Linked DNA regions of Homo sapiens. The main gene of each other region encodes a partner of the protein of the gene in region 2 in a complex. Each region holds a gene or a part of one and is shown on either strand. Other genes may lie near its edges. A codon is read from its position in the direction of its gene.

Region 1 (16,210 bases), on a different chromosome or scaffold from region 2:
CTTCCAGGACAGGTTAGAACCTTAATTTCACTGCTTAATACTAAGCTGTGTGATCTAGACCATGTTCCTTAACCTCTCTGAGTGCATCCCCTCACCTTGACAGCGCAGTCTCACCGTGTTGTCATCTGTGTTGAATGACATAATGCACTTTGCACAGAGCCAGGCACACATAGGAGGTTCTGGATACATGGATGGTGACAGTGAAACAAGGATGATGGGGAATGAGATTGATTTTGAGAAATGATGATGATGACTATGTTTGATTCTCCAAAATGCTGAGTGTACATACATCAGCACACAGATGGTCTCCACTGTGCATGGGCAGGAAGGCACATTACCACCACTTAGATCGGTGCTTCCCACCGTCGTGAGAGAGAGAGGCCGGCAGGACGTGGTCTTTATTTTATGAAGAGTAAAGTTGAGGTACAGGTGGCAAGGAGCATCTCTGAGGTCACATTGGCAGAACTGGGAAAAAACCCATATTTCTTGATTCTCCGCTCACCAAGCCCCAGGGGCATTCTACAAAAATAATTTGGAAGGTGAATGTAACAAAAGTGAAACCCACGTTCTTGGCCTGTGACTGGGTTTCACTTTTTAAGAGATGGAGCCCAGTTATTTCACAGGGTGGCTCTGAGTTGCCCCTAGGTTCTGTTAGGAAGGGTCCCTGCTGCCTGCCCCAGGGGAAGGGGAGTGTTGATGTCAACACAGCTCAAGACACTGGAAAAACTGGTCTGAGGGATGATTGCCTCAGAGGGATTTCTAGGTGAGACCTTCCTGATTGTGCCTGAATGGATACCCCAGTCCCTGTCAGGTTCCCTCCTGTGAGCTATTTCTCTAGTGAGATGGCGGCCTGGTCACAGGGACAATTAGTGCATGATAATTCCTCAGGGCTGTGCCCCGCAGTCCCACAAGAGAAAGCTGTGGGTTTTGAATGTATTTACATTAGATCTTTCTTACCACTTGGGTTCCCACAAAAAAGGGAGCTAGGAAGCTGGGGTGCAGGATTCAATCTAGCATTTCGCAAATATTTTGCCCTCAAGACTCCTTATTTATTTACATGCAGGGTACTGCTCTGCCGCCCAGGCTGGAGTGCAATGGTGTGCTCATGGCTCACTGCAGCCTTGAACTCTTGAGCTCAAGTGATCCTCCTGCCTCAGCCTCCTGAGCAGCTAGGACTACAGCCACACACCACCACACCTGCCTAATTTTGTTTGTTTTTGAGATGGAATCTCACTCTGTCGCCCAGGCTGGAGTGCAGTGGCGTGATCTTGGCTCACCGCAGCCTCTGCCTCCCAGGTTCAGGTGATTCTTGTGCCTCAGCCTCCAGAGTAGCTGAGATTACAGGTGCCCGCCACCATGCCCAGCTAATTTTTTTTTTTTTTTGTATTTTTAGTAGAGATGGGGTTTCACCATATCGGTCAGGCTGGTCTTGAACCCCTGACCTCAGGTAATCCACCTACCTTGGCCTCCCAAAGTGCTGGGATTACACGTGTGAGCCATCGTGCCCAGCCTGGCTAATTTTTTAAATTTTTTTTGTAGAGATGAGGGTTTCACTATGTTGCCCAGGCTGGTCTTGAACTCCTGGCCTTGAGCCATCCTCCCTCCTCAGCCTTCCGAAGTGCTGGGATTACAGGTGTTTGTCACTGTGCCCAGCCGGGATCCTTTTATATTTTGAAATTTTTTTGAGGACACCAAAGAGCTCTTGTGTATACCTATCTTACCTATTGATATTTAGCATCTTAGGAGTCAAAACCAGGCTAGGCACAGTGGCTCATGCCTGTAATCCCAACACTTTGGGAGGCTGAGGTGGGAGGATGGCTTGAGGCCAGGAGTTCAAGACCAGCTTGGGCAACATAGTGAGACTGTTGTCTCTACAAAAAATTTAAAAATTAAAAAAAAAAAAAATAGCAGCCAGACGCAGTGGCTCACACCTGTAATCCCAGCACTTTCAGAGGCTGAGGTGGGTAGATCACCTGAGGTCAGGAGTTTGAGACCAGCCTGACCAACATGGCAAAACCCCGTCTCTACTTAAACAACATAAATATTAGCTGGGCATGGTGGCATATACCTGTAATCCCAGCTACTCGGGAGGCTGAGGCAGGAGAATTACTTGAACCCAGGAGGTGGAGGATGCAGTGAGCCGAGATCATGCCACAGCACTCCAGCTCCCACCTGAGTGACAGAGCAAGACTCTGTCTCAAAAGAAAAAAAAAAAGCCAGGCATAGTGGTGTGGTGGTGTGTACACCTGCAGTCCCAGCTACTCAGGAAGCTGAGGTGGGAGGTTCACTTCAGTCCAGGAGGTCAAGGCTGCAGTGAGCCATGATCGTACCACTGCACTCCCAGCTTGGGCAAGAGAGAGACTCAGTCTCAAAAACAAACAACAACAACAAAGCAAAACTGTTCAAGTGGCATTGTTCCACATTTTTTTAGGTTTCTAATGTCTGGATTCGCATGTCAGCTCTGCATTTGGTCTGTTGTATCACATGTCATGTAGGCTCTGGCAAACACTGTACAGTCATAAGCAAATGAAAGTGAAAAAGGCAAATCACATCTTAGTATTGTGAACATGTTTTGACTCTGAAGATCCTTTGAAAAGGTCTTAGGGAGCCCTGCGGGTCCTCAGACTACACTTGCAAAACCACTGATTTAATAATATAAAGGTTGAGTGAGAAAATTCCTGCTAAACGGTTTGGAGTCAGGGGAAGAAGCTGACCCTGAGTTAGACCCCAAGTTTGGCCCACACCCCAAAAAGTGAACTCAAGAGAGGGTTCAACTAATTGTATCTGACATTCTGTCCAACTCTCACACTGTGTGTGTGGCTTCACTTTAATTCAACAGGTATCAAGCACCTACCAGGCACTGGGTCTCCAGAGGATACAGATAAAGAGATGGTCCCTGGAATCATGGAACTTACATTCACTTGATTTCTGGGGGCTACATCAGGGCAGGGCAAGGCCCACTGCCAAGTCTCTTGGTGTGGCATCAGGCTTGCAGGTGTGGGAGAAAGGGCCCGTTTCCACTTCCATCAGAGGGAGACACCAGGCATCATATCATATCCTCTCTTCCTTCCCTCTTGGACCAGTATGCTGAGTGGTCCCCATCTTGCTCCTAATTTAAAGTCCCTGTCGGTCAGTTTACCTGCCTTCTCTGAGTTCTGATTCACCACCCACTGCTTCCTTCCTGGATGATCACAGCACACGTTCCCTCCCTTGCTACCTAGCACTCAGCAGCTTTGAAGTCCATGTTGCTGTCTGAAATAATGGATTTCACAGGTCCCTCCAACCTCCACTGCACTGATCTTCATCCCTGACACTGCTACCCTTGAGGGCCTGAGGTCCCCCTCTCCTTTACCCACTTAGCCTTCTGGTTGGTGACACTTTACTTCCCAAAGCTCTTTGAAGCGCCCTTAGCTCATCTTCCCTCCAAATATTCACTCCTTATTATTTCCTGGCTGCTAATCCTCTGCTTCCACTATCCTGAAAAATACTTCATGAGCCCCACTGCTCTCACCACCAAGCATTGTTTCTCTTGTCATCCACTGCCAAACTTCCTGCCACCTCTGTGGCTCCACTGCCTGCTTCTGCAAACCTCAGCGTGCTCCCTGCTTTACTTTTCTCCTTGGACATACTTGGTGCCTGTATTCTCTATCAGAATATAAGCTCTATGAAAGCTGGGATTTTAAAATTTTACTTACTGCTGAATCCTCAGCTCGTAGATCAATGTCTGGCATAGTAGGCCCTCAAGTATTTGTTGAATGAGTGAATGACTTGTTCCCCACTAAACTGTAAACTCCGTGAGGACAGGAGCTTTGTTTTGTTCATGTTCTAGCCTCTGTGCCCACTACAGTGCCTAACACCTAGTAACTGTGCAAATTTTTTTTTTTTTTTTTTTTTGAGATGGAGTCTCGCTCTGTCACCCAGGCTGGAGTGCAATGATGCGATCTTGGCTCACTGCAACCTCCACCTCCCAGGTTCAAGTGATTCTCCTGCCTCAGCCTCCCGAGTAGCTGGGACTACGGGCGTGTGCCACCACACCCAGCTAATTCTTTTGTATTTTTAGTAGAGATGGGGTTTCACCATGTTAGCCAGGATGGTCTTGATCTTCTGACCTCATGATCCACCCGCCTCGGCCTCCCAAAGTGCTGGGATTACAGGCGTGAGCCACTGCACCCGGCCACTTAATATTTACTGAATTAAGGATGAATCCAGTTACCAGGTAAATTACGTGATTTTTTTTTTTGGAAGCTGCTTTGTCTAGTTTATAAGTTTGCTTATTGTCTTTTGCATCTGTCCCTGCTGTTACCTTACACCCAGGCTTCAGCAATAACCTTTAAAGCTCTGCAGCTGAAATCCATCCTGCACCCTGCCAGATTACTTCACTAAAATATTTTGAGATTGCCTCTTTGCTCAAAAACTTTCAATGCCTCCTCATCGTATTAATAGTTTCTAATGTGCAAACAGGTGGTGTTGCAAAAGTTCATCTGTAAGTTAGCTGTTCAGAGCAGTGGAACAAAGTTTCCCATTACTGGACACACTGATCCTTTAGGTCACACAAGTTTACATATGTATACAGTGAGAAGGAGAAAGAAAGCTTAACATAACTCATCACTGAACTGTAGTTTAAATAAATGTCTAACAATGTTTCCAGAAGAAAATGTGCTGATTCATTTTGAGATGCCAGGCACATACCCTGGCCTGCAGGGAATTCCCCTCCAAGCCAAATGATGATTCTCATAGACTGTGACAGGGACTGTCTAAATAGACACTCAAAGCTCTCCTATTCCAGTGCCATCATGACATCTTTATGATAAAATCTTCTCCCCATCATTCTAACTAAAAGCTATAGCTTTCCTCCTCTGAAGTCTAGACTGCATATCTGACAGCTTTTCTATCTACTGTATTGTCTTATACTTTCAATTTCCTCATGAGTATGTCTTAACTCTTGATGAGGCTGTGAACTGGTGAGAAAAGGCTCTGTTCCTTTTTTTTTTTTTTTTTTTTTAAGACGGAGTCTTGCTCTGTCGCCTAGGCTGGAGTGCAGTGGTGCAATCTCGGCAACCTCTGCCACCCGGGTTCAAGCGATTCTCCTGCCTTAGCCTCCCGAGTAGCTGGGATTACCGGCGCCTGCCATCGTGCCCGGCTAATTTTTTTTATTTTTAGTAGAGATGGGGTTTCACCATCTTGGCCAGGCTGGTCTTGAACTCCTGACCTCGTGATCCTCCCGCCTCAGCCTCCCAAAGTGCTGGGATTATGGGTGTGAGCCACAGCGCCCGGCCTAAGGCTCTCTTCTTATAACCTCTGCAATCCGTGGCACATAAACACTCATTAAATAGTTACCAAAGAAATGAAGGAATTTATGCCGATTGCTTTCCAGATGACACATGCAGGCAAAGTCAGGAATCTGGTTTTAATGGCCAATTTGGATTTATTTCCCAAAAATATCCTACAGCCTTATTATCAGGAAGCTGCCTTGAAAATGTGTGCTAGAGTCTACAGTAGGAAATGGCTCAAAGTATGAATCAGTGCAAAATGACCTTGAGTAACATTGGTTACAGTCTGTCACATGCCTACATGTGCCAGGTAATTTACAAACATAACTCTAAAACAACCATTCTGTGAGGAAACGGGGGCTTTGAGATAGTGTGATGTGACTTACCTAAGATCACAAAGCTTTTAAGGGATGGAGGCCAGGATTCCAAAGCTAGCATTGGAACGAAAGTCTTCCCGACACCAGCCCAGGTTGTGAAGATGAGCTAGGAGGACCTACTGCCTCGCTGGCTGGTTAGGGCTGGGCGTGCCTCCCTGGTGGAAGGAAGGTACATACCTTCCTTCTCCCCCTCTATTTCCTAAAACTGCTGAGTCAGAGGATGGCCCTAACCTTCCCGACCAAGGGGGACTTTCTATCGGGAGCACATGAGCAGCTCTTCTCCCTAGCCAGTACCTTCAGATTCCAAGCTCATGTTATTTCGATATCACCACACTGATTCTCAGCTCCCGGAAAAACAACTCAAGGCTTGAGTCAGACACTCCATGTGTTGTTCAATGATCCCGCCTGCAACAATGTTTATTATAACCAAAAAATATAAACAGCATGAATGTCTATTAATAGCGGAGTGGTTAAATAATAGTACATCCGATGGTTATCGGATGGAGTACCATACCACGCAGATGTTAAATGATAAAAGTGTACTGTTAAATAGAAAAAGCAAGGTATGTACATATATGTTTGTACAGGCAAAGGAAATTCACTGGGGGGCACTTATTCATTCAACAAATATGTGTTAAGCATTTTAAGGTTACCTGTGAAACTAACAGGGGTTACCTGTGAGGAGTGCTTCAGAAGGAAAAATAGTAACTTGTACTTTTCAGTAAACTTCTGCACATAATTTTAAGGACGAACATTGTTTTTTTTTTTTGAGACGGAGTTTCGCTCTTGTTGCCCAGAATGGAGTGCAATGGCGAGATCTCAGCTCACTGCAACCTCCGCCTCCCGGGTTCAAGCGATTCTCCCGCCTCAGCCTCCCGGCATTGCTTTTTATAAAGTCAAAAGAAAAGGAAGTTTGATAAAACAAGTAGAACTATCCGATAAATACTCGCCTGGAAAGGGACAGGATTATAAGAAACAGGTAATAAGGAGCTTAAAACCCTCTGCAGTTCTGCAGTGAGGATGGTCGTGGGGGCATACAACTTTCCGTTTCAGGTCAGTTTAGGTAGGGCAGGTGGGAACTCACTCTAAAACGAGAAACCGGGGCTGATGACAAAATGCACACGTTTAGCTTCTGGCGGCCCAGGTCTTCCTAGCCGCAGATTCTGAGACGTGTATCTGCAGGTGGTGTGAAATTGAAGCCGGGGGAGCGGTTGCTTTCGGTCTCCGAGGTGCGCCTTGCACACTGGGTCATTCAGCTCCCAGGCTCGGCTCGGAGCTGGACCACTCCCTCCCCTCCACCAAAGAGGCAATGTGGGCTCCAAGAGGTCACAGCGCTGGGATGGGATTTCGACCCCGCGCTGCCCTCAAAGGCCACCTCCTCGCAGCTCTGCTCCCGCCGGCAGCTCCCGTTCTGTCCAACTCGGAAGCCGCCCGCCGCCCTCGGCGTCCACTCCACAGGCCCGGGGCCGGGGCCAGCTCCGCGGGGGAGGGGTCGGTGCGGAAGGGGCGGGGTACCGGGCCTTCCCCGCGCGACTCTGCCTTCTACGGCCCCGGCCCCTGCCTCTGGAAACCCGGAGCTCGTGCGAGCCCCGCCCCACGGTCGCGGCGTGCCTGTCATTTCCTCTCCGCAGGGCGTGCGGGTCTCGAAGATGAGGGAGCAACAACGTCCACGACCGGGCTTCTCCGGCACCTTGGGCTTCTTTCCGCTGGGACTCGACAGCGGCTCGGCTCCGCAAGCTCTCAGCGCCCAGGGTGGCGGCGACGACGCTCCCCGAGGAGACGCGAGGAAGACGGGCCCGCGCTTGCTGGGACTCCGTCAGGGCGCGTGCGCGACCCGGGCGCGGCCGGCTCAGGCTGCGGCTGCGCAAGGCGGTGCCAGACGCTGCGCCTGCGCAGTGGTGGGGCGGGGCGGGAAGGAGGGAGGCGGTGGTAGCGGCGGCGGCTGCTGAGGAGGAGGAGGGGGAGCGGAGGGAGGTGTTTCTGTCAGTTCCGGCTGTTTGTTCGGGAAGTGGATCCGCCGCTGCCGGAGCAGCCCGAAGGGAGCTGCGGATCGCGAGGCCAGTACCGACCCCGCCCGCCCGCGCGCACCGCCCCCGCCCGCCATGGCCCGGGACTACGACCACCTCTTCAAGCTGCTCATCATCGGCGACAGCGGTGAGGGCCGCAGCGGCCGGAGGCGGCGCGGGCCCTGCCGGGCGCGGCCCGCGGGGGCCTCGGGGCGGCAGGCGGGCGGGGAGGTGCCGGCCCGTGCGGGGCGGGCGGGCGGGGCAGCCCGGCGGTCTGGGCCCCAGGGGTGCGCCGAGGGGCTCCGGACCGCGCCGAGGGGAGGTTGGGGCGCGGGGCGGAGGGGCCAAGCGCGCCGGGTCCAGTCATCGCGCCTGTTCCTGCCTCACGTGTGACCTTGGTCAAGTCGCGCGATCTCTGGAGTTGGAGAGACGTGGGTTCGAGTCTCAGGACTACCACCTGCCTCGCGCTGACCTTGGGCAAGTTGCTTCGCCGTCCTGAGCCTCAGTTCCCTCATCTGAGAAGTGGGGATGTGCCTTGCTGGGTGGTGTGAGGATTCGATGGGATAAAGTAGGAAAAGTGCGTAGCGCCCTACCCGGTAAAGTAAGCTCGAAGTAAATGTTCACTATTGTCATTATCATCAGTATCCTTTATAAGCGTCAGTTTCTTCCCATCTAAAATGAGGACGTTCTCAGAACCTGCCTCATGGGATTGCCGTGAGGTTTAAATGAGGTAAGTCGGATAAAGGGCTTTGCACAGGGTCTGGCATATTCCTGCTGAATTATTATATCCCTGCGTGGTTCAGTTTCCTCATCTGTAAGATGGAATGATAGTTGGATCTGCCTTATGGGGTTGATGTGAGTATTAAGTGAGATTCTGCAGTGTTGCTCACAGCTCCTGGCACATAGTGAGTTGTCACTGTTTGCTGTTACACTACTATATACAGAGGGGTCCTGGGGATGGGACAGCCAAAATTATAAAAGTGCTTTGGCCACACACACACACTGCTTGAGGGCTCCTAGCTCTGATCACTGCTCTAGCTCCAGTGCCTAGAACAGTGCCTGGCACCCAGTACATGCTTAAGACATATTTGCAGAAGGAATTAATGAATATTAAGTGTCCTTCGAAAAGGTAGACTGGTTTCTGGGAAAAGGTGGAGGGTTTTAGAGCTGTTTGGAGTGTGGCAGGTGAGCAGGTTTATGGAGTGACCAAGAGGTCAGGAAGGCAGGCCCCAGAAGGTTTATGGGAGCGAAACTGAGGTGCTGGGGTTATATGATGTTCATGAAAGAGTCTTGGGAGCATGCTCAGTTTGTAGACCAGACCTGAGCTGAGTGTGGGGAGGGATGTCTTATGATTGGAGGCAGAGGCCAGGCTGGTGGTAGAGCCCATGGACTGTTAAGGAAAGGGGATCAAATCAAGTGAGCGGTATGACTTGGGATGTAGGAGTGTTGGGTAGCGATGTCAGAGCTAGGTCAGGGAAGTGGGTGGTTTTGGCCTCCCTTTTAAAGCTGGATGGAGATGTGGTTGGTGGTTTGGATCAGGTGAAGGATGGCTGAGGTTTCCGTGGTTGCTGGAGGAGGGGAGAGGTAAGGGGGAAAGCTGGGGGCTAACCAGGGAGATGGAAGAGTAACTGAGGTTGGGGAAGGAGGTAGAAAGGTGGAGTACTGACTGGTTATGGTTTGAATGAAGGGAAACCAGGCAAGCTCTGGAGTGTTCTCTTGGAGATGGCCTTTGGTATTCTTCAGGGTCTTGAGGCTTCTTCCTTTACATGATTTCCTTGCAGCCCTGGCCTGGGTTCTGAGGGACTGGCACTGGGGCCATTTCTCTCTTTTTGGAGTGACAGCCCGCCGTGGTCAGGAGCCTTTATCCCTCTGCAAGACATCTGGACCTCTGCGTTGATATCCAACAGTGAAAAGCCTAAACTCAGCAGGAAGATGCAGCTTGTTGGCTCTTCTCCTCTGTAAAGCCCAGGGGATGGGTTTGGCCCGCTTTCTCACAGTACATTTTGTGTGATGAATTGATTTTTCTCTCCGAAGTCAGGTGTGGGAGAAGACTCATTGGGTCGAGATTTATGTGGTCTAGCTCCTAGGTCAGCCATGTAGGCGTAGGTTGTGCAGAGGAGATGGATGCTGTGCTCTTTGATTTCTCCCGACATTGAGATCCTCAAAGCTGGGAGATGGTAGCCATGGAAGTCCAGACTAAGCTTTGGCAGCTGAGCCCAGAGACTGACATTACACACTCCCCTGAACTGGGCTCCTTGTGTGAATGCCTCCTTAAGATATGTTGAACGATTTCACAGACGCTTATTCTCACCCGCCCCCTGTGTGATTTGTCAAATAAGGAAACTAAGGCTTAAGGCCGGGCGCGGTGGCTCACGCCTGTAATCCCATCACTTTGGGAGGCCAAGGCGGGCAGATCACCTGAAGACAGGAGTTTGAGACCAACTTGGGCAACATGATGAAACCTCGTCTCTACTAAAAATACAAAAGTAGCCGGGCATGGTGGAATGTGCCTGTAATCCCAGCTACTTGGGAGACTGAGGCAGGAGAATCGCTTGAACCTGGTAGGCGGAAGTTGCAGTGAACCAAGATCGCACTATTGCACTCCAGCCTGGGCGACAAGAATGAAACTCCGTCTTAAAAAAAAGGAAACTGAGGCTCAGAGGAGGTGACTTACTTGCCCCAAATCACATAGCTCAGCAGGGGCAAAGCCGGGAGCCACTGCATCTCAGTGCTAATACGTGTGCGAGCAGCTCATGTCAGGGCTGGCAAACAATAGGCCCTCCATGAATGCTGGTTTCTTTCTTCATAAATCTAGAGTTCTGCCCACTCTGCACATTGTGGATGCTTCTGCAATGGATTCCCTCAATCTCTGCATCCCTTCGTTATGCCGGAGGTTCTATATTTTCTTTTTTTCCTTTTTTTTTTTTTTGAGACGGAGTCTCGCTCTGTCGCCCAGGCTGGAGTGCAGTGGCGCGATCTCGGCTCACTGCCGGCTCCACCTCCCCGGTTCACGCCATTCTCCTGCCTCAGCCTCCCGAGTAGGTGGGACTACAGGTGCCCACCACCATGCCCGGCTAATCTTTTGTATTTTTAGTAGAGACAGGGTTTCACCATTTTAGCCAGTATGGTCTCTATCTCCTGACCTCGTGATCCGCCCGCCTCGGCCTCCCAAAGTGCTGGGATTACAGGCGTGAGCCACCGCGCCCGGCCAGTTCTGTATTTTCTATACTTTCCCTTATACTCTCTGACACTGGCTTTGATTTGTAACAGCATGTCGTCTGCATCCCTCAGGCCAGCCATCCTCATTTGGAGATGGAGTTAGCCCTTCACTTGACAGATGAGTAAATTGAGGCTCAGAGAGGGGGCGTGACTTGTGTGAGGTTATACAGTGAGGTGGTGGCTGAGGCAGGTTTAAAATTGAGAACATGGCTGGGGGCAGTAGTTTGTCCTAGTGCTTTGGGAGGATGAGGCGGGAGGAACACTTGAACTCGAGACCATAGTGAGAGCAACATAGTGATAGCGAGACCCCATCTCTTAAAAAAAAAAAAAAAAAAAGGCCGGGCACAGTGGCTCACACCTGTAATCCCAGCACTTTGGGAGGCCGAGGTGGGCAGATCACCTGAGGTCAGGAATTCGAGACCAGCCTGGCCAACATGGTGAAACCCTGTCCCTACTTAAAACACAAAAAATTAGTTGGGTGTGGTGGTACGCACCTGTAATCCCAGCTACTCGGGAGGCTGAGGCAGGAGAATCATTTGAACCCAGGAGGCGGATGTTGCAGTGAGCCGAGATCGTGCCACTGTACTCCAGCCTGGGGGACAAGAGCGAGACTTCATCTCAAAAAAAAAAAAAAAATCAGTTGGGCGTGGTGGTGCACATCTATAGTCCCAGCTATGTGGGAGGCTGAGACAGGAAGATTGTTTTAACCCAGGAGTTCAAAGTTACAGGGAGTTAGGATCACACAACTGCACTCCAGCCTGGGTGACAGAATGAGACACTGTCTCAAAAAAAAAAAAAGGTCCAGGCACGGTAGCTCACACCTGTAATCCCAGCACTTTGGGAGGCCGAGGTGGAGGATCACTTGAGCCCAAGAGTTTGAGACCAGCCTGGGCAACATAGGGAGGCCCTGTCTCAACAAAAAGAAGAAAATTAGCAGGGCATGGTGGTGCACGCCTGTGGTCTCAGCTACTTGGGAGGCTGAGGTGGGAGGATCTCTTGAGTCTGGGAGGTTGAGACTGCAATGAGCTATGATCACGCTGCTGCACTTTAGCCTGAGCAACAGAGCAAGATCCTGTTTCAAAAAAAAAAAAAAATATCGAGAACAGTTCACTGAAAGGTCAGGGCTCTTCAAGAGGTTGAACTGAAGCAGAGAGGAGTGAGGGGGCCATAGCCCAGGCAGGAGCAGGAGGAAGGGAAGACATGTGTGTGGCTTGCGTGGTGAGGACCAGATACAGCAGCCAGGGGTAAAAGGCCGGGAGCAGTAGCTCACTCCTATAATCCCAGCACTTTGGGAGGCCGAGGCAGGCGGATCACTTGAGGTCAGGAGCTCGAGACCAGCTTGGCCAATGTGGTGAAACCCTGTCCCTACAAACAATACAAAAAATTAGCTGGGCGTGATGGCGGGCGCCTGTAATCCCAGCTACTCCGGAGGCTGAGGCAAGAGAATCGCTTGAATCTGGGAGGTGGAGGTTGCAGCCAAGATCGCGCCACCGTACTCCAGCCTGGGCGACAGAGTGAGACTCCATTTAAAAAAAAAAAAAAAAGAATGACAGGCTGGACTGGTTGGGGTCATGCTGATGTGCCCTTGGGCAGCCTCGGGGGTGGCTGTGGTGAAGGTTGGTGGGTGCCCTCTGCTCCTGCCCTGACACTGATGGTGTGGGGTAATGGCTGCAGCTTGTGTTTCCGAGGAAGCCTCTTCCAGGGATATTTAGGAGGTAGTGTTTCTTGGGGTGGGTTTCTGTTCCTCTCAAAGGGAGAGCAGTGTCAGAGGTTGGTGTCAGGTCCAAAGCAGCAGATAATGTGGTGATGGTTGTGGTCTTTCTGCAGCCTAGTGGCTTTTTTTTTTTGAGATGGAGTCTCGCTCTGTCGCCCAGGCTGGAGTGCAGTGACACGATCTCAGTTCGCTGCAACCTCCGCCTCCTGGGTTCAGGCGATTCTCCTGCCTCAGCCTCCCGAGTAGCTGGGATTACAGGCACGCACCACCACGCCCGGCTAATTTTTGTATTTTTACTAGAGGTGGGGTGTTCATCATGTTGGCCAGGATGGTCTCGATCTCTTGACCTCGTGATCTGCCCACCTCGGCCTCCCAAAGTGCTGGGATTACGGGTGTGAGCCACTGCGCCTGGCCAGCCTAGTGGCTTTTAACTGCTCTGCCGAGACGCCTGGGGACAGTATGGGGACCTGGAGAGGCCAAGCTGGAGGGGATACTGCTGTGTCATTGCAGAGAGAGCTGTTTTACACATGGGATTTGGGTAAAGCTTGGATGAAGAAAAGGATTCTGCTGCCCTGCAGAAGTTTGGAAACCCCTGCTTAGGCGCCTGCTGTGCTGCAGTGGGAGCGCTGGATAGCAGAGCTGTCAGTGTGGCGGGCGTTCGTTTAGGCAGAAATTCATTAAGCAGTGTTTGGTTGGCACCTACTAAGTGCTGGGCCTGGCTTACAGCACTGTGAATGCACAGGGCGGGTGAGGCGAGGGCTCTGTCCTAGAGGAACTCCCAGACTCAAGCTTTTAGCTGAGTAAGCTGGACCCAGAAGGCTCCAGGAGGAAGCAGAGGAGGCGGCGAGGCCAGTGGGGTGCTGGTGTTGGGCACAGCGCCGTGAAGGACCCAACCCGGGACTCGGGCTCTCCTTGAGCTCAGCAGGAAGCCTCACGGCGGAGCAAGGAGGAAGTGGCCCTGAGCATGAGCCCTGCAGGCCCAGGCTGAGCAGCGTCTGCCTGCCCAGGAGAGCCTCACCCTGGCCTGTCTTTAGGAAAGTAGGACCCAGGCTTACTCAGTGAAACAAGTTCTTCTGGGCATCGTGGGGCAGCTCACTCACCAGGAGAAGCTCCCAGAAGAGATCTTTAGAGGATTGCCCAGAGAGGATGCTGGGGTTAGGCTTAGGGAAATACAACTGCGACAGTGGTTTTCCGCTTTGGTTACTTGGTAGAGTGCAGGTGGAGGCAGTGCCCTTCTTGAGAATCTATTAAAATTGTGGAGCCAAATGCAGTGGCTCAGGCCTGTTAGCCCAGCACCTTGGGAGGCAGAAGCGGGCAGATTGCTTGAGGCCAGGAGTTTGAGACCAGCCTGGGCAATATAGTGAGAGGCCATCTCTACAAAAAATTTTTAAAGAGTTTGCTGGGTGTGGTGGCGAACACCTGTAGTACTTGGGGATTTCAAGGTTAGAGTGAGTTATGATCGCACCACTGCCCTCCAGCCTGAGAGACAGAGTAAGGCCCTATCTCTCCAAAAAAAAAAAAAATGCTGTGGGCTTCTCCCATGAACAGACACCTAGGCTCAAATCTGCACTTTGTTTCAGGGGGTTTCATAGCTTTCGTGGCATTTTCATTAAAAATCTAACAGGAGTGAGATGTTGGAGCCCCCACAGGTCATTTTTTCCAAACTTCCTGAACCAGACGCAAGACTCCCAGCAATGTGTATTGGGAGGAGTGTTAGCACTCTGGAGGAGTCCGGCCTGGATGCAGATCTCAGCTTTACTGCTGCTCACAGAGGCACTTAGGCCGGCCACTCTGGGCCTGAGGTTCCTCATCTCAAGAGATGTGGCCAGAATTATAATCAAAGAGGCATCCAAGGGCTCACCACACACACAGCCCGATGCATGTGAATTCTTTGTGGTCAATTAACTTGGCTGGCCTCAGGGGTGTTGGAGATTGGGGACAGGATAGGAGGACATGGAACAGGTGTACTTGGCAGGCTGAAAGCACTGTGAGTTGAAGTCAAGGGGAGAGGTCCAGGCGCAGTGGCTCATGCCTGTAATCCCAGCGCTTTGGGAGGCCCAGGCGGGAGGGTTGCTTGAGGCCAGAAGTTTGAGACCAACTTGGGCAACATAGCAAGACCTCGTCTCTACAAAAGATTAAAAAAAAAAAAAAAAAAAGCCTGGGCAACGTAGCCAGACTCTGTCCCTACTAAAAATAAAAAAATTAGCTGGGCATGATGGTATGCACATGTGGTCCCAGCTACTCGGGAGGCTGAGGTCAGAGGATCACTTGAGCCTAGGAGTTGGAGGCTGTGGTGAGACATGATTGCACCATTGTACTCCAGCCTGAGTGACTGAATGAAACCCCATTTTTTTTTTTTTGAGACAGAGTTTCGCTCTTGTTGCCCAGGCTGGAGTGCAGTGGCATGATCTCAGCTCACTGCAACCTCCGCCTCCCGGGTTCAAGTGCTTCTCCTGCCTCAGTCTCCCGAGTAGCTGGGATTACAGGCATGTGCCACCACGCCCAGCTAATTTTGTATTTTTAGTAGAGACGGGGTTTCTCCATATTGGTCAGGCTGGTCTTGAACTCCCGACCTCAGGTGATCCGCCTGCCTCGGCCTCCCAAAGTGCTGGGATTACAGGCATGAGCCACCGCGCCTGGCCTGAAACCCCATTTCTTTACAAAAAAAGTGGGGGAGGCCAGATGTGTACATGTTTGTGCTCTAAGCAGCCAGGAGCTGCTGTGGCTGGTGCATGGTCTGAGCACATGTGGGCTGCTGCCCTGATGGGTATAAGGCAGACCCTCCACTCCACCAGCCCACCCGGCGGGGACATCAGCCAGAAAGATGGTAGCCATTGAGTTCTAGCTATGTGGGCCTTGGTTTCCTCACCTGCAAAATAGCCCTGATGATCTCAAGGGTCCTTTCCCGCTCTACAGCTCTTCATTTTGGGCGGCTCCCTAACTGATGTGCTACAACGTGCTGTGCACTTTTCTAGGGACCATGTTGTAGACGCACTTGGGGGCCGTTTCGTGTGGTTGACCTTCATTCTGCTTTGTCGTCTGGCATCTCCCTTTGGGCCAGCCCTCAGCCTAGGGCCTGGGCACCAGTCCCTTTCTCATCTCTCCCCCAGGGGATTTGGGAGCAGCTTGTCTTACACAAGGACGAAGGAAAAGGTCAGGGATCGAGTGGAAGAGATGTTCTTGGTGTGTGGCCGCTCAGGGAGGTGGAAAGAGCATTGAGAAGTGAGCTGGGTCCCACCGAGCTTCTTAAGAGTTGGGACTGAGGCATCCTCTCCCGGAAGAAGGGCTGGGGCTGCGGGGAGGGGACCCACCTGCCCCCCTCATCGCAGTGCTTTCTCTCTTGCAGGTGTGGGCAAGAGCAGTTTACTGTTGCGTTTTGCAGACAACACTTTCTCAGGTGAGTCCTCCCCTGCAGTGCTGCTGGGGTGTCGTTTTTGTTTGTTTGTTGACATCCCCTCCCTGGCACCAAACAGAGTTGCCTCTGCCTGATGTTGGGAACTGTCTCATTCTGGTTGCCAGAGGAGGGAAGAAGATGGAGTGGGGCTTAGGACCTTGTGGCGCTTCTGTCAGAAGCCTCTGTGGTCTGTCTAATGCACCTGCTCACGAAAACCCTTTGGCTGGCCC
Region 2 (16,170 bases):
ACATATCAAACTTCACATTGGTCTCTGCTTTATTAGTTTTGTTCTTTCAAGATTCAGTAAGATCCCTTTAAATCTTGATTCTGCTGCTCAGTATCTCAAAGAGCCGTCTCAGCTGCCTTTTTTATTTTTATTTTTTAATTTACTTTTTTCTGAGACAGAGTCTCACTTTGTCACCCATGCTGGAGTGCAGTGGCGTGATCTCAGCTTACTGCAACTTCCGCCTTCCAGGTTCAAGCGATTATTGTGCCTCAGCCTCCCGGGTAGATGGGACTACAGGCGTGCGCCACCATGCCTAGCTAATTTTTGTATTTTTAGTAGAGATGGGGTTTCTCCATGTTGGCCAGGCTGGTCTCGAACTCCTGGCCTCAAATGATTTCCCCACCTCAGCCTCCCAAAGTGCTGGGATTACAGGCATGAGCCACCACACCTGGCCTACTTTAATTTTTTTTAGAGACAGGATCTCACTTTTTGCCCAGGCTGGGATGCAGTGGTGCAATCATAGCTCACTGTGCCTCAAACTCCTGGGCTCAGGCGATCCTCCTGCCTCAGCCTCCCGAGTAGCTAGGACTACAGGCATGTGCCATCACTCCCAGCTGTTTTTAAATTTTTTTTTCTGTAGACACAGGGTCTCACTATATTGCCCAGGCTGGTCTCAAACCCCTGGCTTCAAGTGATCCTCCTGCCTCAGCCTCCCAAAGTGCTGGGATTATAGGTGTGAGCCACCATGCCCAGCCGACCTTCTCAGCTTCCTATACTGTCATTCCTAGATTGGATCAACCTGTCCCTTCTTTTGTCATTCAAAGCTTGATGAATTGTCATTCATTTTTGATTTAGAAAAAAGCTGTACAGAATCAAGAGAAGACTGGAGACTTATGGAACAGAGCAGCATGTTGATATGTCTTAATCTGATAGAGAAAACACATCTCTGACCAGGATATTTCTTGCCCTCAGAATGCCAGTCATAGTATCCCACGAGATGCACCCAGCAGACAGACACTGCAGTCTAAGGGAGTGGGTTCAAAGGACCCAGTCAATCCTTGCTGTTTCTGATCCTGCCCCTTCCCTAGAGATCTCCCTCCCATGCCCACCCCAAGGACAGCTCTTCAGTGTATGTTAGGAACATGAAGTCTTCTGATGGACTGTGATCTCCCTGACAGCACAGATATTATTTATGGTTTTAAAACATTTTCTTTTGTGAAGCCAACAGACCCAACCTAAGGCTACAGCACAGCTGTGAGCCTCTGCTATCCCTGCTTTACCTCCCTTTCCTTCTAAACCCTCTGAGATCTGGCTTCCACTCTCACTACTCCTGAATGTTGCCTTCAGGATTCTTCATTATCTTAGGTGATTTCTCTTTAGAACTCTTTTGGTTCAAACTTTTTTTAAACTTTCTCCTCCTTTGGTTCCTGTGACTTCACTCTCTCCTGGTTTTTCTTTTTTTTTGAGACGGACTCTCACTTTGTCACCCAGACTGGAGTGCAGTGGCATAATCTTGGCTCACTGCAACCTCTGCCTCCCAGGTTCAAGCGATTCTCCTGCCTCAGCCTCCCATGTAGCTGGAACTACAGGCACCCGCCACCACACCTAATTTTTGTATTTTTAGTAGAGATGGGGTTTCACCATGTTGGTCAGGCTGGTGAACTCCTGACCTCAGGTGACCCGCGCACCTCGGCCTCCCGAAGTGCTAGGATTACAGGCATGAGCCACCATGCCCGGCCTCTCCTGGTTTTTCTTCTATTGTCCTAATTCTTCTGTCTCTTTTGAGGGTGCTGCTCATCCCTTAAGTCACAGTATCCCCTTCTTCCCTTTATAACTCAACACATTCTCCCTGGATCCTCTCTCAGCCACACACATAGCTTCAGCTACCACTTTTGTTTTTTATTTTTGAGACAGAGTCTCACTCTGTTTCCCAAGCTGGAGTGCAGTGGCATGATCTAGGCTCACTGCAACCTCTGTCTCCTGGGTTCAAGCGATTCTCCTGCCTCGGCCTTCCATGTCGCTGGGATTACAGGCGTGCACCACCACACCCGGCTAATTTTTGTATTTTTAGTAGAGATGGGGTTTCACCATGTTGGCCAGGCTGGTCTTGAACTCCCGAACTCAGGTGATCTGCCTGCCTCAGTCTCCTAAAGTGCTGGGACTATAGGTATGAGTCACCACGCCCAGCAAGTGCCAGCTACCACTTTTATTCCAATGACTTTCCAATCTACACAGTGCTTTCTCCTGACTTCAGGAAGACACCCCTTCCAGTCCATCTTCTACCCAAACAACCAGTGATCCAATTACTTTTTTTTTTTTTTTGAGGTGGAGTTTCGCTCTTGTTGCCCAGGCTGGAGTGCAGTGGCGTGATCTCGGCTCACTGCAATCTCCATCCCAGATTCAAGTGATTCTCCTGCCTCAGCCTCCAGAGTAGCTGGGATTACAGGCATGCGCCACCATGCCTAGCTAATTTTTGTATTATTAGTAGAGATGGGGTTTTACCATGTTGGCCAGGCTGGTCTTGAAAACCTGACCTGAGGTGATCCGCCCGCCTTGGCCTCCCAAAGTGCTGGGATTACAGGTGTAAGCCACTGTGCCCAGCCCAATTACTTTTTTTTTAAACAAGGCCTGAAGGAACAACCAACCAGTGATCTTTCTAAATGCAAATCAAAACATATAATTAAGCAGACAGAAAAACCAAACCAAACAAAAACAAACAAATGCCAAAAGCCATTTCTCTAAAATTTTTCAGTGGTTCCACCTGTGTTCCACTATGGCTTCACCAAATTATATGCAGTTCCTAGAAAGGGTCAAGCTATTCTGTGCCTTTGTGGTTTTGTACAGACAATCCTGTGAGCCTAGAACATTCTTCTTACAAGTCGTCACAAAGCCCAATCCTAATCATCTTTCTAGATTGGGCTTAAATGTAACTGCATTAGCAGTTCCTCCCTGACGTTTCAGTCTGATTTACATACCCCTTTCACTGGCCAGTACGGAACACTGCCATCTCTGCATTTTAATGATCAACTACGTTTTCTGTTTCTGTCCTTAGCTGGAATCCTTGAAAACAGAGTCATCCCTCTCATCTCTCTGTCACTAGCACCACCTTAACACACTGGTATAAAATATTTATTTAAAATGTAACAAAATAAATAGGGAAAGAGCTGGCCTAGGGAGGCCACTGCACTCCAGCCTGGGCGAAAGAGCAAGACTCCGTCTCAAAAAGAAAAAAAAAAAAACTTCACTGACGCCCAGTGTGTGTGTGTTGTTGTTGTTAGACATATCCCTTGGTTGCCCCTTAGGCACTGCAAACTCCTAAAGGTCTGAACCTGAACTTTTCTTCCAGGAAATCTCCTGTGATTACAGCCCCTATCCATGGCCTCATCTTTCCCATCATCCAGGTTCAGAATCAGTCTTCTGAATCCTTCATTTCCCAATATGTCAGCCTCTAAGTCCTGCTGATTTTATCTCCTCAGTGTATTTATTTATTTTTTTTTTTTGAGACAGAATCTCACTCTGTCTGCCCAGGCTGGAGTGCAGTGGTATGATCTCAGCTCAGTGCAACCTCCACCTCCTGGGTTCAAGCAATTCTCCTGCCTCAGCCCCCTGAGTAGCTGGGATTACAGGTGGGTGCTACCACTCCTGGCTAGTTTATTTTTTATTTTAGTAGAGCTGGGGTTTCATTATGTTGGCCAGGCTGGTCTCAAACTCCTGACCTCAAGTGATTCGCCTGGCTTGGCCTCCCAAAGGGCTGGGATCACAGGTGTGAGTCACTGCACCCAGTCTGCTCAGTGTATTTTTGAGTCCTCTGTCTTTCTCCAGTGAGCCTATTCCACTGTAGCTGTGGGTCCTGCCCTGGCCTAGAAGGATAACAGATCTAGGATGTGGAACCTCTAGTGGTATGGATGGGGTGGTCTGGCAGGGACCTGTCAGGGAGGTGGCCATGCATATCCTGCTGGTGAATAGCCACATATTTGCTAACCCTTAGGCTCCTTACCGTCAGCTCTAGCTCTTGCATCCCTCTGGGTATGGCTGTTGGCTGGGCTCCCTGGGAGAGCAGGCCCTGGATCCATCAGCTGAGCCAGGGGGCCTTGCCCAGTAGCTCTGAGGCCAGCAGGAGGCATCTCACTGGAGTGGGGTCCCTGACAGACCTGGGTGGACCAGGGTGGACTTGGGTCTGGGCCAAGTAGGTCCATGCCTGGCCCCAAAGGCATGGGTGGCAGGCTATGGCTACAGCAAGTGCCCTCATCCAGTGGGGCCCCCCGATCTTGCTGGGCTTCTTGGATGGGTGAGAACTCCTGGGAGGAGTCCCCAACACTCACACGAAGTGGGGGCGAGCCAGAGCCTCCAGTTTTCTTCCGGCCCTTGGCCAGCTCGGCAAAGGAGGTGACCCTCCTGGGTGGGGAGCCAGGCCCGGCCATGGCTGCAGGGCCCTCACTCAAGCGCACTGGGCAACTCAACATACGTTCCAGCGAGCCCAGGCGGACAGGAGGGCTGCGCTGCAGGCTGCGATCATAGCTGCGGGAGCGCTGACGTCCAGTGCTGAGGTTGGGGGGTGAAGTATTCGTGTATACTTGTCCCTCAAGCACAGTGGGGCCCACAGCAGCTGCTGCTTGGGTGGAGGAACTCACTGCTTCTTGTTCCTCTGGCTGGACTTCTGGCTTCTGGAATAGGTAATACTCAGAGGGCTGGCTGGGGCCTGGGTCTGGGCCAGGGCCTGGTGGGGGACTTATCTTGGTGTGTTCCTCAGAGCAGCTAGTGATGGAAGAGCCAGCAGGGCTTGGGGATGATTGGGAAGATAGGTCACAGGTGACAAGTTTATAGTAATTTTGTGTGGCCACAACAAGACGGGCCTGGCTTTGGAAGCAGGCTGTGAGGTCAGCCACTGCTGGGCACGGCTCACAGTGTGGGCGGTAGGAGTTGCAGTTGGCATCAAGCTCAGGAGAAGAGGCATGAGGGCAACCATAGCCCCCTTCCCTTCCTCCACTTTCAGGGTGATGGGACTCATAAGACATCTTAGACTCAAATGGGGAGGGCTGCAGATCCAGATAGAAGGCGCCAGGGTCTGAGTGGCTGCAGAAGGAAGAGTCGCTGCAGGACTGTGGGGCAGAGTTGAGATTGGCACGGGGGGTGCCATGCATCTTGTTGTAGAGGGTGCTGAAGGTGACCAGCACACCATCTGAACTGTTGCAGGAGGAGTCGCTCACATAGCCCATGGACTGGTCAGCTGCCTCGGACTGACTGGATGTGCTACTGCAGCGGCAGTGCTGGTCCCCTGAGCCGGAGCATCCAGGGTTCCTTGGGGATTCATCTGAACTGAGCTTCCATTCCTGGTCAAAGGAAAAGCCAGAGGTATCGCTGGCTCCACCCCCACTGCCACTCCCACCAGGTCCCCCACACTCATCCAGCTCCATAGTCTCTGCTTCCAGCTCTGGCCGGCAGCAGTGGCTGGTGCCGCACTGCTGAGTATCCAAGGTCATCACTGGCTCCTGTTCCTGCCCTTCCACCACTCCAGCCCGACTGCGTGTTGTCCCCCATGGCCTGCCCACTCTGGGGCCAGATGGTGGCAGCTGGAAAGAGGATAGATGAAAGTTGGGCTGGCCAGTGCCATGCAGGTGGAAGGACTGCTGGGTGGCACTGTCACCAATGCTGTCATCATACAGGTCACCAAGTCCTGGCTCACCCACACCCTCCTGCAGCAAGAAGGGGTTGTGTCGTTTGGGGGCTCCAGGGCCTCTTCCATCCCGACTCCTACTCTTGGTGCTGTCTATAGACCGTGCAGTTCCTCCTGGAGTAGAGTGCAGGCTGCTGAATAGCAGGGAGTCAGCTTGTCCTAGGTCTTGATCGGGCTGGGTGATGCCCAGCTCAGGTGGGCAGAAGGGATTAGGTCTTGTGCTCCCACCACCTCCACCTGCCCCTCCACAGCACTGCCTGTCTGGGACTTGGCAGTGCACCAGGGGGATGTGATGAACGATGAGGGTCTCTCCAGTCAGCTTTGGGGGACTATCCATTCTGGAAAGTTCGAATAAGGGCTTCAACAGCACCAGACACTGTCCCTGGAGCCCAGTGGGGCAGAACACATTTCATCAGGAGAGCTTGGCACCTGGAGAGAGAGGGAAAGAAAGGGAACCTAATGTCACCTCCCTGGAAGTCAGGGGCATGCCCTTCCCTACATCATTTTCAGATGGAGAAGAGCCCAGGAAGAGAAAAGGCTTGAGTCAAGATGGAGCTTGACCACACAGCCCAATAGGCAGGTGGGGACGTAACCATGCTTTCTGCATTGCACAGGTGCAGCACCTGAGGTCCCCCTTAATTTTAAGGTCACTATGCATCAAATTATGACAAAAGGCCAAGTCCTTCTAATGCCACATATGAAGGTTTGGGCAGTACTTTCCCTTTCTCTTTCAAGGACCCTCTCCTTGGCAGTAAACAATGACCAGTCCTTAGCACAAAAAAACTATGAATAATGACACAATTAAGAAAAAACCATCTAGGATGTTTAAGGCTTAGACACAGCTATAGCACACAAGTTTACAGCCAAGAGGGAAAATCATGAATAATATGAACTCATAGCAATAAGCTATAATTTTGCAAGAAGCATTTTAAAATATACGGTATCATCTGACCAAGTGACTGTTATCTCTGATCCCCTTTCTCGTCCTACAAGCCCCAGAATATTTGTCCCTTTCTGATGACCGTGGGCTAAGTATCCTTACTATCCTCACTACTATACTAGAACTTCTTGAATGCAGACACTGAGTTGGGCATTAGGGTGACTGCAAGTATGACTGATGTCAACCTCTTCCTCCTCAATGGGGGTGGGGGGACCTAGTTTTATGTCTTTTGTATCATTCTAACACATCACACAAGATAAACGTGAAAGGCATAATACATTCTTAACATGCGTCTAGCTCAGGATACAGACATCCTGAAGTGCCCAAATGCTGCCCAGTTTTAGCTTAGAACCTTCACTACTGGGATCCACTAGAAAGTCTTCTCTTCCCAGTTTTACCTCTTATAGGCTAAAGCAAAGTTCTCTCTTGTTCAAGGTCTCCTGGTGCCAAGGACACAGAACCCATCCTGAGCTTCTCTGGTCTCTTGGCTGCACCGTGGCAGTGTGGCCTGCTCAAGTTCTAGTCTCCTGTGTTTCCACGTTCAGGTCGCAACAGTCTTCATTCCCTTCGACTCCTCACATGTAATGTTCCAAAATTCATTCATTTCCTTTCTCTTTTTATTCCTATCATTTCCTTTTCACTCACCCTGAGTCTAAATCCCTCATTGCCTTTCTCTTATTCATCATTTAACTGAATCCTTGACACAATCAATTTCTTAAAATTTAACTCATGTAGACCATAGGGTCATAGCTCGTCATGTGGAATGTGGTAAAGTCTGAGGCAAGTCACATATGCTCAAGGACATGAACAAACAATGCATAAAAAATATGGCTAATAAGTATACGTATAAGGGACAAGGTATTAAAATATAATTGTGTTAAATTTAAGCAGCAATTATTTACAATCTTGCTTCCTCCTCCCCTTTCTGAGAGGAAGGCAGGCTCCTCTGTTGAACTTCCAAGCCTTTGTGTGTTTAATGGGCTAATGGGTAGAGATGTAGAAGGGCAGATATTAAGAGAGTCTGAGCTACAAGATTAAGGGTTACAGAAGAAAACATAGGAGTAAATCTTTGTTATCTTGGATTAGGTGATGGTTTCTTAGATATGACACCAAAGGCACAAGTGACAAAAGAAAAAACATAAATTGGACTCCATAAGAACCAAAAACTTTTGTGCTTCAAAGGATACCACCAAGAAAGTGAAAAGACAATCCATAAAATGGGAGAAAATATTTGCAAATCATATACCTGATAAAAGACTTCTAATCAGAATATATAAAGAACTCTTACAACTCAACAATAAAAAGACATACGAGGCTGGGCACAGTGGCTCACGCCCGTAATCCTAACACTTTGGGAGGCCGAGGTGGGAGAATCATGAGGTCAGGAGACAGAGACCATCCTGGCCGACATGGTGAAATCCCATCTCTACTAAAAATATAAAAATTAGCTGGGCGTGGTAGTGCATGCCTGTAATCCCAGCTACTTGGGAGGCTGAGGCAGGAGAATCGCTTGAACTAGAGAGTCAGAGGTTGCAGTGAGCTGAGATCATGCCACAGCACTCCAGCCTGGTGACAGAGTGAGACTCTGTCTCAAAAAAAAAAAAAAAAAAAGACATATGATCCAGTTTAAGACAGGGCAAACAGTATGAATAGGCATTTCTCTGAAGAAGACATACAAGTGTCTAACCAGCACATGAAAAGATGTTCAACATCATTAGTCATTAGAGTAATAAAAATCACAATGAGATACTACTTCACTCCAGCTGGGAGGGATAAAATAAGAAATACAGACAATAACAACTAGCAAATGTTGATGATGATATGAAGAAACTGGAACCCTGAAACATTGCCGGGAGTATTGTAAAATGGTGCAGCTACTTTGGAAAAGTCTGACAGTTTATCAAAATGTTAAACATAGTGTCATCACATGACCCAGCAACTGCACTCCTGGGTATATACCCAAGAAAAATGAAAACATATGTTCACACTAAAGCTTGTACACAAATGTTCATAACAGCATTATTCACAGTAGCCAAAAAATTGGGCACAATCGAAGCCAGTCACAAAGGGCTTTTGTGATGTTGTATGATTCCATTTATATGAAATGTCCAGAATAGGCAAATCCATAGAAATAGAATGTCCTGAAATCAGGCCAGGCGTGGTGGCTCATGCCTGTAATCCCAGCACTTTGGGAGGCTGAGGCGGGCGGATCATTTGAGGTCAAGAGTTCAAGACCAGCCTGGCCAACATGGTGAAGCCCTGTCTCTACTAAAAATACAAAAATTAGCCAGGTGTTTGTCACCATTTTTGTAAATAAACATGTCTGTATGCATAGAAGAAAATCTGTAACATGCAACAAACTGTTACCAGTGCCTATCACTGTTGAATGATTTGGATTATTTTTAATTTTATTCTTTTTGCTTCAGCTGTATTTTCTAATTTGTATGTAATAAATACCCATTTTATGCATAATTTAAGCAATTTTTTTCTTTTTTTTGAGACAGGTTCTCACTCTATCACCGAGGCTGGAGTGCAGTGGTGCGATCATGGCTCACTGCAGCCTCAGCCTCTTGGACTCAAGTGATCCACCTCAGCCTCCTGAGTAGCTAGGACCACAGGTGTGTGCCACCACGCCTGGCTAATTTCTGTATTTTTTGTAGAGACATGGTTTCTCCATGTTGCCAAGGCTGGTCTTGAACTCTTGGGCTCAAGTTATCCACCTGCCTTGGCCTTCCAAAGTGCTAGGATTACAGATGTGAGCCACCATGCCGGGCCTAAACAATTTTTTTTCTTTGAGGGGGTTTCTCCTTTCATACATAACTACGTTTCCCCTGGAGTCCTGGCCATAATCCCGAGTCTGGACTAAAAGGAGCATAGAGAACTTTCTTACATAGATAGCAGTAATTTTAGGGGTACCTATGGGTTGCAGCCATCACTGACCTTCAATGAGTACCTTTTCTTCCTTTTTAAAGCATTTTCAAGAGGCATTCACAAGTATCACATAAAAGAATGTATGATTCTGCCACAAAACCATTACCAGGACATACATGCATTAATATGGAAAAACTGATGTACAGATACAGAATGCAGAAAGCTGACTCTCTAAATCAGAGATGAAGAACACATGAGCGTGGGAGATGACGGAGCCCTTGGCTGGAGGGCACTGACAATTGTATTGTAATGTGATGTTGACATATCTATCTCCCAGACTGGAGCACAGTTCTGAGGTTGGAGACTGCAATACAGTGAACTCTGTGCTTGGAACACAGTAGGTGCCTGGTTATTTGTTGACTACTTTTCCCATTAAAATAACCTGAGTTGTTAGTCTTTTTATGATTGAATTATAGGAGTTTTAACATTTATTCTGGATACAAGTCCTCTGTCAGATATATGCCTCATGAATATTTTCTCTCAGCCTGTGGCTTGTCCCTGTTTTCTTAACTGTGTTTTTTGATAAATAGTTTTTAATTTATTAAATTTAAATTGATCAATTGATCAACTGATCATAGAGTTTGTTTCTCTATGGTTAAATCTTTCTGTATCCTAAGAAATCTTTACCTGTCCTAAGACCATAAAGAAATGTACCTATGTTTTCTTCTAAAAGCTGTATAGTTGTAGCTTTTACATTTAGGTTGTATTGAATCCTACTTTAACTGTCAAGCTCTTTCACTGATTGATTTCATTTTATTTTATGCTTTTGTATCTCAGAGAAGATCTTATTCCTTTCTGATCTCCACACAACCAAGAGAAAGGCCGAGCAATGGCTCCTCCATAGACGATTCCAATTCAGCCATCTAAGGGGAAGTTCTCCAGGCATCTCATGAGATTTTGTACTCATGCTTTGCCCACCCCATTCACATTTACTTACAAGGCACTTTTTATGTATGCATATCTTACTGATCCTTACATCAACTTCCAAAGGAGGCAGAGCCATCTTCATTTTTAAAAATAAGGAATTATTTTTATATTTATAAAATTTTAAAAAATGTTATATGATATAAAAATAATTTAAAAAAATTTTATATATATAAAAATTTTAAAATAATTATACACCCAGAAAAATGAAATGACTTGCCCAAGACCACTCAGTGAATAAATAACAGAATTAAGATGAGACTCAGGAATCCTAACTTTTGATCTTTTTTCTTGGTCAGTTAAGAATATAATGAGAGTAGACCTAGCATGGGGGCTCACACCTGTAATCCCAGCACTTTGGGAGGCTGAGGCAGGTGGATCATGAGGTCAAGAGATTGAGAACATCCTGGCCAACATGGTGAAACCCTGTCTTTACTGAAAATACAAAAATTAGCTGGGTGTGGTGGCACGCTCCTGTAATCCCAGCTACTTGGGAGGCTGAGGCAGGAGAATTACTTGAACCCAGGAGGCGGAGGTTGCAGTGAGCCGAGATCGTGCCACTGCACTCCAGCCTGGGCGACAAAGCGAGAGTCTGTCTTAAAAAAAAAAAATGAGAGTAAACTGTACATATGACACCACAGAGAACATTTACTGAGAGCGTATCTCAGGCTCCTTTCCTGGGAGTGACTTTTTCTACATCAAGACAAGTGGCCCATCCCCTCTAATGAAGGTGAAGAGAAAACAGTGAGCTGGAAGAGCTCATTTCAGACTTTTTCTGCCCTGACTAAATGGAGAGACATGGAAGATGAGGATGGGGGAGAAACAGAGGATCCAGAATAAGAAGAAAGTAGAAGACAGCTCTTTCAGAAGATGAGCCCTCTAGCTATGCCTACCAGGTAGAGTGGAATGGTGGGCTCAGCCAGTATAAAGTTATGAGGTCATGCTCTCCAAAATCAGGAAAAGCTTTCTATGAGAGCCCTTTTCCTGGCCCTTGTCCCAAATGGGTGTCTCTTGTCCTATTATAATACTATAAGTGATCATTTATTAAACACTTATGTGCCATTAATTTATATATATCATCTCTAAATGTACTGTAACATTTTTAAGTAGGCATAATCCTTCCCATTGTAAAGATGAGAAAACCAAAGCTTAGAGTGTGTAAGTAGTTTGTCCACATTTACACATCTGAGATGGGATTCAATCCCAGGTCTGCCCAATTTGTAATTATTTCCACTACAACGGCCTTCCAAAGAAAATGATTGGGGCCACACCCTCTTCCTAAAGTCCTTGCAATTACTCTGCTCCCAGAGCATCTGCTTCCTACCTGTCCTGGGTAGACCCACATTTCAGCCTCCATTTACACAGGTTATGTCTACCGGCCTCTCTATTCTATGAACCTACAGTCCCTTTCATACTGTCCCCAGGCTATGATAACACTTGCCAATCCCACCTCCTGCCCCAGTTCCCAGCCCTCATCTCCCTGCCCCATTCATGGTCTCAAGGCTCATTATTCCCTGCTCTTGTGGTTCACATTCCTAGACACTTCCTGGGAACAAATACACTCCCATAACTATCCAGCATATTCCTTAACCATATAGTTGCACAACATGGCACTACTGTCTCCTATTATCCTATGTTTTTGAACCCTCTACCAAGGTGGTTATTAGAAATGGGAATTTTTTTACAATTATTTTTTACAGACAGAGTCTAGCTTTGTTGCTTAGGCTACAGTGCAGTGATGCGATCATAGCTCACTGCACCTTGAACTCCTGGGCTCAAGTGATCCTCCCACCCAGCCTCCTTAGTAGCTGGGACTACAGGTGCACACCACAATGCCTGGCTAATTTTTAAATTTTTTGTAGAGACAGGGTTTCACCATGTTGCCCAGGCTGGTCTCAACTCCTAGGCTCAAGTGATCCTCCCATCCCAGCCTCTCAAAGTGCTGGGATTACAGGTGTGGAAATGGGAATTTAGGGAACTCTTTCTACCTGCTCAGCAATGGAGCAACTCTGGGCGGGAAAACCCCAGAAAGAAGGTTTCCTCTAGCTTTGGTCATCAGTGTCTTTCTGCCAGTCATAGAACCCCTTCCCTCTTTTTTGGCCTTCTGAATAAAGATGGGGAACACAATGGTCTTCAATTGCTCTTCTCTAGCAATCTGACCTTGACTTGAGATCCTGATAAGGTGCCTCTGTAGGACTGATAACGCTTTTCCTGACTGGTCCTCTCCTGGGTAGGATCAAAGGGAGGAGGGCAGGAGGGTAGATTTGGGAGTGTTAGCTTATGCTTAGGTCTCTTCTTGAAGGCTTACTGTAACAGATCAGGTGCCCTAGGCATTACAATGACTGTCCCTGCCCCTGCCAGACACTGTGGGGCACCCTGGTCAATGTTTTCTTACTCCACCCTTACCTGGAGCCTGGTGGCTCCCATAGCACCAGAAGATATGGTATGTGTGTCTATGTGCATGTATAGCTATGTGCATGCATGCATGCATGTATGTATGTATGTGTGTGTGTGGAGAGAAAGGTTTCCCAGCCCTCCTCTTGAAAGCTGCGAGGATCCTTGCATGTTCTCCATCATAAACTTACAGTAGCTGTAGGGGTGTCTCCTCCTATTAAGCCTTTGTTTCTAGATCTGACTCCCCCATCCCTGACCCATACTAGAAGCTTCATTAGAAATGCCCAAAAAGGAAGGATGAGATCTGCTTCTTGACAAAATAGCATAAATGGCATTAGCCCAAGCCTTGGCTTTTCCCCATCTCTGCACCATAGCCCAAATGTATGCAATGAGCTTGTCTAATGCTTGTGCTTCCGCATGTTCCCCCCTTTATCCCCCCCCGCACCGCCCCCCTCTCCCTTTTGGAAAGACAAAGCCAACCCTCAGAAGCCAGGGCCCAAATGTGCTGATCGGTATCCTAGCATCTCTGCCCTGCCCCTCCCCCAGCTCCCTGAGCCATACCTCTGTCAGGAGCCTTGAGCTGGACCCCTGATGCGTCTGTCCCTTTTGCACTCCGACCAAGCTCTACCGCGACAGTTCCAGCTGAGACACTGTTCCACGGGATCACACAGGGGAACTGGGCCGATTTCCTAAGATCTGATTTCTGCTAATACAATGGCATCGTTGCTAATGCAGGGAGGCTGCGCAATCCCAGCCCCAGTCTCCGTGCTGCTGCCGCGGCTGCTGGTGCTGCGGTGACGTTGCTGCTAAGGGAAGGGGGAAGGGAAAGGAGCAGGCAGGCCCACAGCACAGCCACTCAGCCTCCCTCCCTTCCAGCCCCTGTGGGCCCTTTAGCCTAGGGAAGGGGGAGGGTAGAGAAAGGAGCCAGCCACAGAGGGCAGTCAGTGCTGGAAGATGGAGCACTCTTAAGACAGCAAAGGAAAAATGGGGAGAGTTGTGTCTAGCTCCTCTTTTGTCCTTAGGCATCTCAGGGAAGATGTCTGGGCAGAGCCTTGGAGCTTCCTTCCTTCCTTCCTTCTTTAGGCTCCTCCTTTCATATCTTAACCAGAAACCTCTCCCTCCTCTTTTTGCCCATTGTGAATGACTCTGTTTTCCAGCTTTTTCCTCTAACCAGGATTCCAGACTAGCCTCAGGGTGGGGCAGTCAGCCTGGGAGGGGATTCCTGAAGCCCAGAAGGGAGGCTGCAGGGACCAGTCACCATTCTGCCAGCAGTAACTCGAACTCAGTCCTGGTGGATGGCCCACGAGTCTTAGCACTGGCCTTCCTAGAGAGACGGGGCGGTAGACAGGCTTCTGTACACTGGGTGGTGGTAAGTCTTAAGGACCATGGAGGCTGCAGGCCCTCTTCCTAACACGGTATTCAATTCAGTTCCCTGGGTCTTCAGAGGTCTACTCGCTGTGGCTGAAGTAGAACTGGCCCCTCTCACATACATCAGTTCTCGGTCAGTGCTCAGCTGGGTCCAGCTGGGTTTGTGTGAAGGCAGAATCCCTCTAGCCAGGCTGAGAGGCCAGGAAGCTTATCTCCCCAGGGAAAGGAAGGCAGGGAACAGGGAGTGGTCTCTCCTAGGCCACAGAAAAATCTCAGTTCTGCCTGGAGACCTACAGAGTCCTCTGCTCCTTCCCTGCTCCAGCCTCCTCAGGTTCTGGGCCAATTCTGTGGGAATAAGGAAAAAAGGGAGAAACTGCAGCTAGAGCCAGTTGTACAGGAAGTAGCGGTGAGGTCTCCGTCCACTTTGTGCCACTGCTCCCTGCTGCTACGCTTGAACACAGAGATAGTCTTAAGCAGGGCTTGGTCCCCAAACACTAGCCCTGCCTAGGGTTCCTCCCAAGGTGACTACTATCTGGACTCCACAGCCTGCCCTTGGATTTCAGGTCCTTAGAAAGAAGCCTTTGGAGAAACCACTGGCCAAGACCATAACAGCTATCCCTCAGGATCCAGAAGAGATGTAACTTTTCTTTTCCTTTCTTGTTTCTCCTATTCCCTGTGACACCCATGTGTCCACTGACACCATGCTGAGCTGAGTCAATTGTAGAGAGAAGAACAAAAACACACAAAGACACAAAGACCCATCTCCAGCCTTGACTTGTTTGAGCAGCCATGGCCCCTTGATCCTATAAAGCAAGAAACAGTGAGGAAAGGAAGGAAGGAGGGAGGCTGCTGTTCATAGCCAACCATTAGCGGTCATCTCAAGGAGGCTGAAAGGTGAGGAAATGGTGTCACTATGCTTTCCTCTCGCCTAGCTGATACCACAAAGCGGGGTTGGATAAGCATCTGTAGGTTAGGGCAGAGTGAATCTTCATGACCAAGCGTTTGGAGTTCGAGCCTCTTACCATGAGAGCTCTGGGCCCAGGGTCTTTGACTCTGAAATTTCTGCGAGGCTAAGTCATGCATTGTGCTGGACAGCCAGTGCTTCCAGTTGCCTATGGAAGGTGGCAGCTCTCAGACCTCTAGTGCTTGGCTTAATTCACTACATCACAGACAACCTTGCCACTTACTTCCTAACCACTACTGCCAAAGATCTAGGGTTTTGAGGAAAGATCAAATTATTTTCCAGCCAGAAACAAAACACAAATACTGTTACATTATAAACCTCGGCCACCTAACTAGTCTCCCCACTTGCAATTTACTTTTTAGTACTACCAGATTCATCTCCCTAAAGCACCACCTTTCTTCAACATGCCACTCCTCCTGCCCCTTTTAATGGTTTCTCATTACCCAGAGAATCAAGTTGAGCCTCCTCATTTTGGCTTTAGAGGTCATCCATCTCGGCTGTCTATTCTTTTTTTTTTTTTTTTTTTTTTGAGTTTCACTCTTGTCATCCAGGCTGGAGTGCAGTGGCGCGATCTTGGCTCACTGCAACCTCTGTCTCCCAGGATCAAGTGATTCTCCTGTCTCAGCCTCCCGAGTAGCTGGGATTACAGGCACCTGCCACCATGCCCCGGCTAAGTTTTTTACTTTTAGAAGAGACGGGGTTTTGCCATGTTGGCCAGGCTTGTTTTGAACTCCTGACCTCAGGTGATCCACCCGCCTCAGCCTCCCAAAGTGCTGGGATTACAGGTGTGAGCCACCGTGCCCAGCCTTGGCTGTCTACTCTACTCCACTCAACCTTGCCTTCCCATCATGCAGTCCTTGAAACATGTTTCAGAAACTCATTTCCACTCTGTTGTATTTGTTCATTCAGACTCTCCTTCCTGTTACACTTGGCCCTGTTCAAAATTATCCAAACCTACCAGACCCAGAGCAACTCCTCCATCAAGTCTTCTCTGAT

Evidence for each region.
Region 1: the proteins of RUSC2 (region 2) and RAB35 are in contact, whole or in part, in a crystal structure (PDB 6IF2), measured with the Homo sapiens proteins. Residues at the interface, in NP_001129471.2 of Homo sapiens: Val997, Lys998, Asn1001, Asp1005, Val1008, Thr1013, Arg1015, Lys1020, Glu1119, Glu1155, Leu1158, Leu1159, Gln1161, Pro1162, Leu1165, Leu1166; in NP_006852.1 of Homo sapiens: Asp4 (codon at 7,759), Tyr5 (codon at 7,762), Leu8 (codon at 7,771), Phe9 (codon at 7,774), Lys10 (codon at 7,777), Ser22, Leu26, Asp30, Ile38, Thr40, Val43, Asp44, Phe45, Lys46, Ile47, Lys58, Gln60, Trp62, Thr76, Arg79, Gly80, His82.

The regions. Positions count from the first base shown.
Region 1 is NC_000012.12:120,108,190-120,124,399, reverse strand, and holds the start of RAB35 (ras-related protein Rab-35), read left to right. Parts: upstream 1-7,646; 5' UTR 7,647-7,749; coding exon 7,750-7,801; intron 7,802-15,932; coding exon 15,933-15,983; intron 15,984-16,210. UniProt on the Homo sapiens protein: The small GTPases Rab are key regulators of intracellular membrane trafficking, from the formation of transport vesicles to their fusion with membranes.
Region 2 is NC_000009.12:35,536,342-35,552,511, reverse strand, and holds part of RUSC2 (AP-4 complex accessory subunit RUSC2), read right to left. Parts: intron 14,556-16,170; exon of another isoform or gene 13,404-14,555; intron 6,083-13,403; 5' UTR 5,991-6,082; coding exon 3,977-5,990; intron 1-3,976. UniProt on the Homo sapiens protein: Associates with the adapter-like complex 4 (AP-4) and may therefore play a role in vesicular trafficking of proteins at the trans-Golgi network.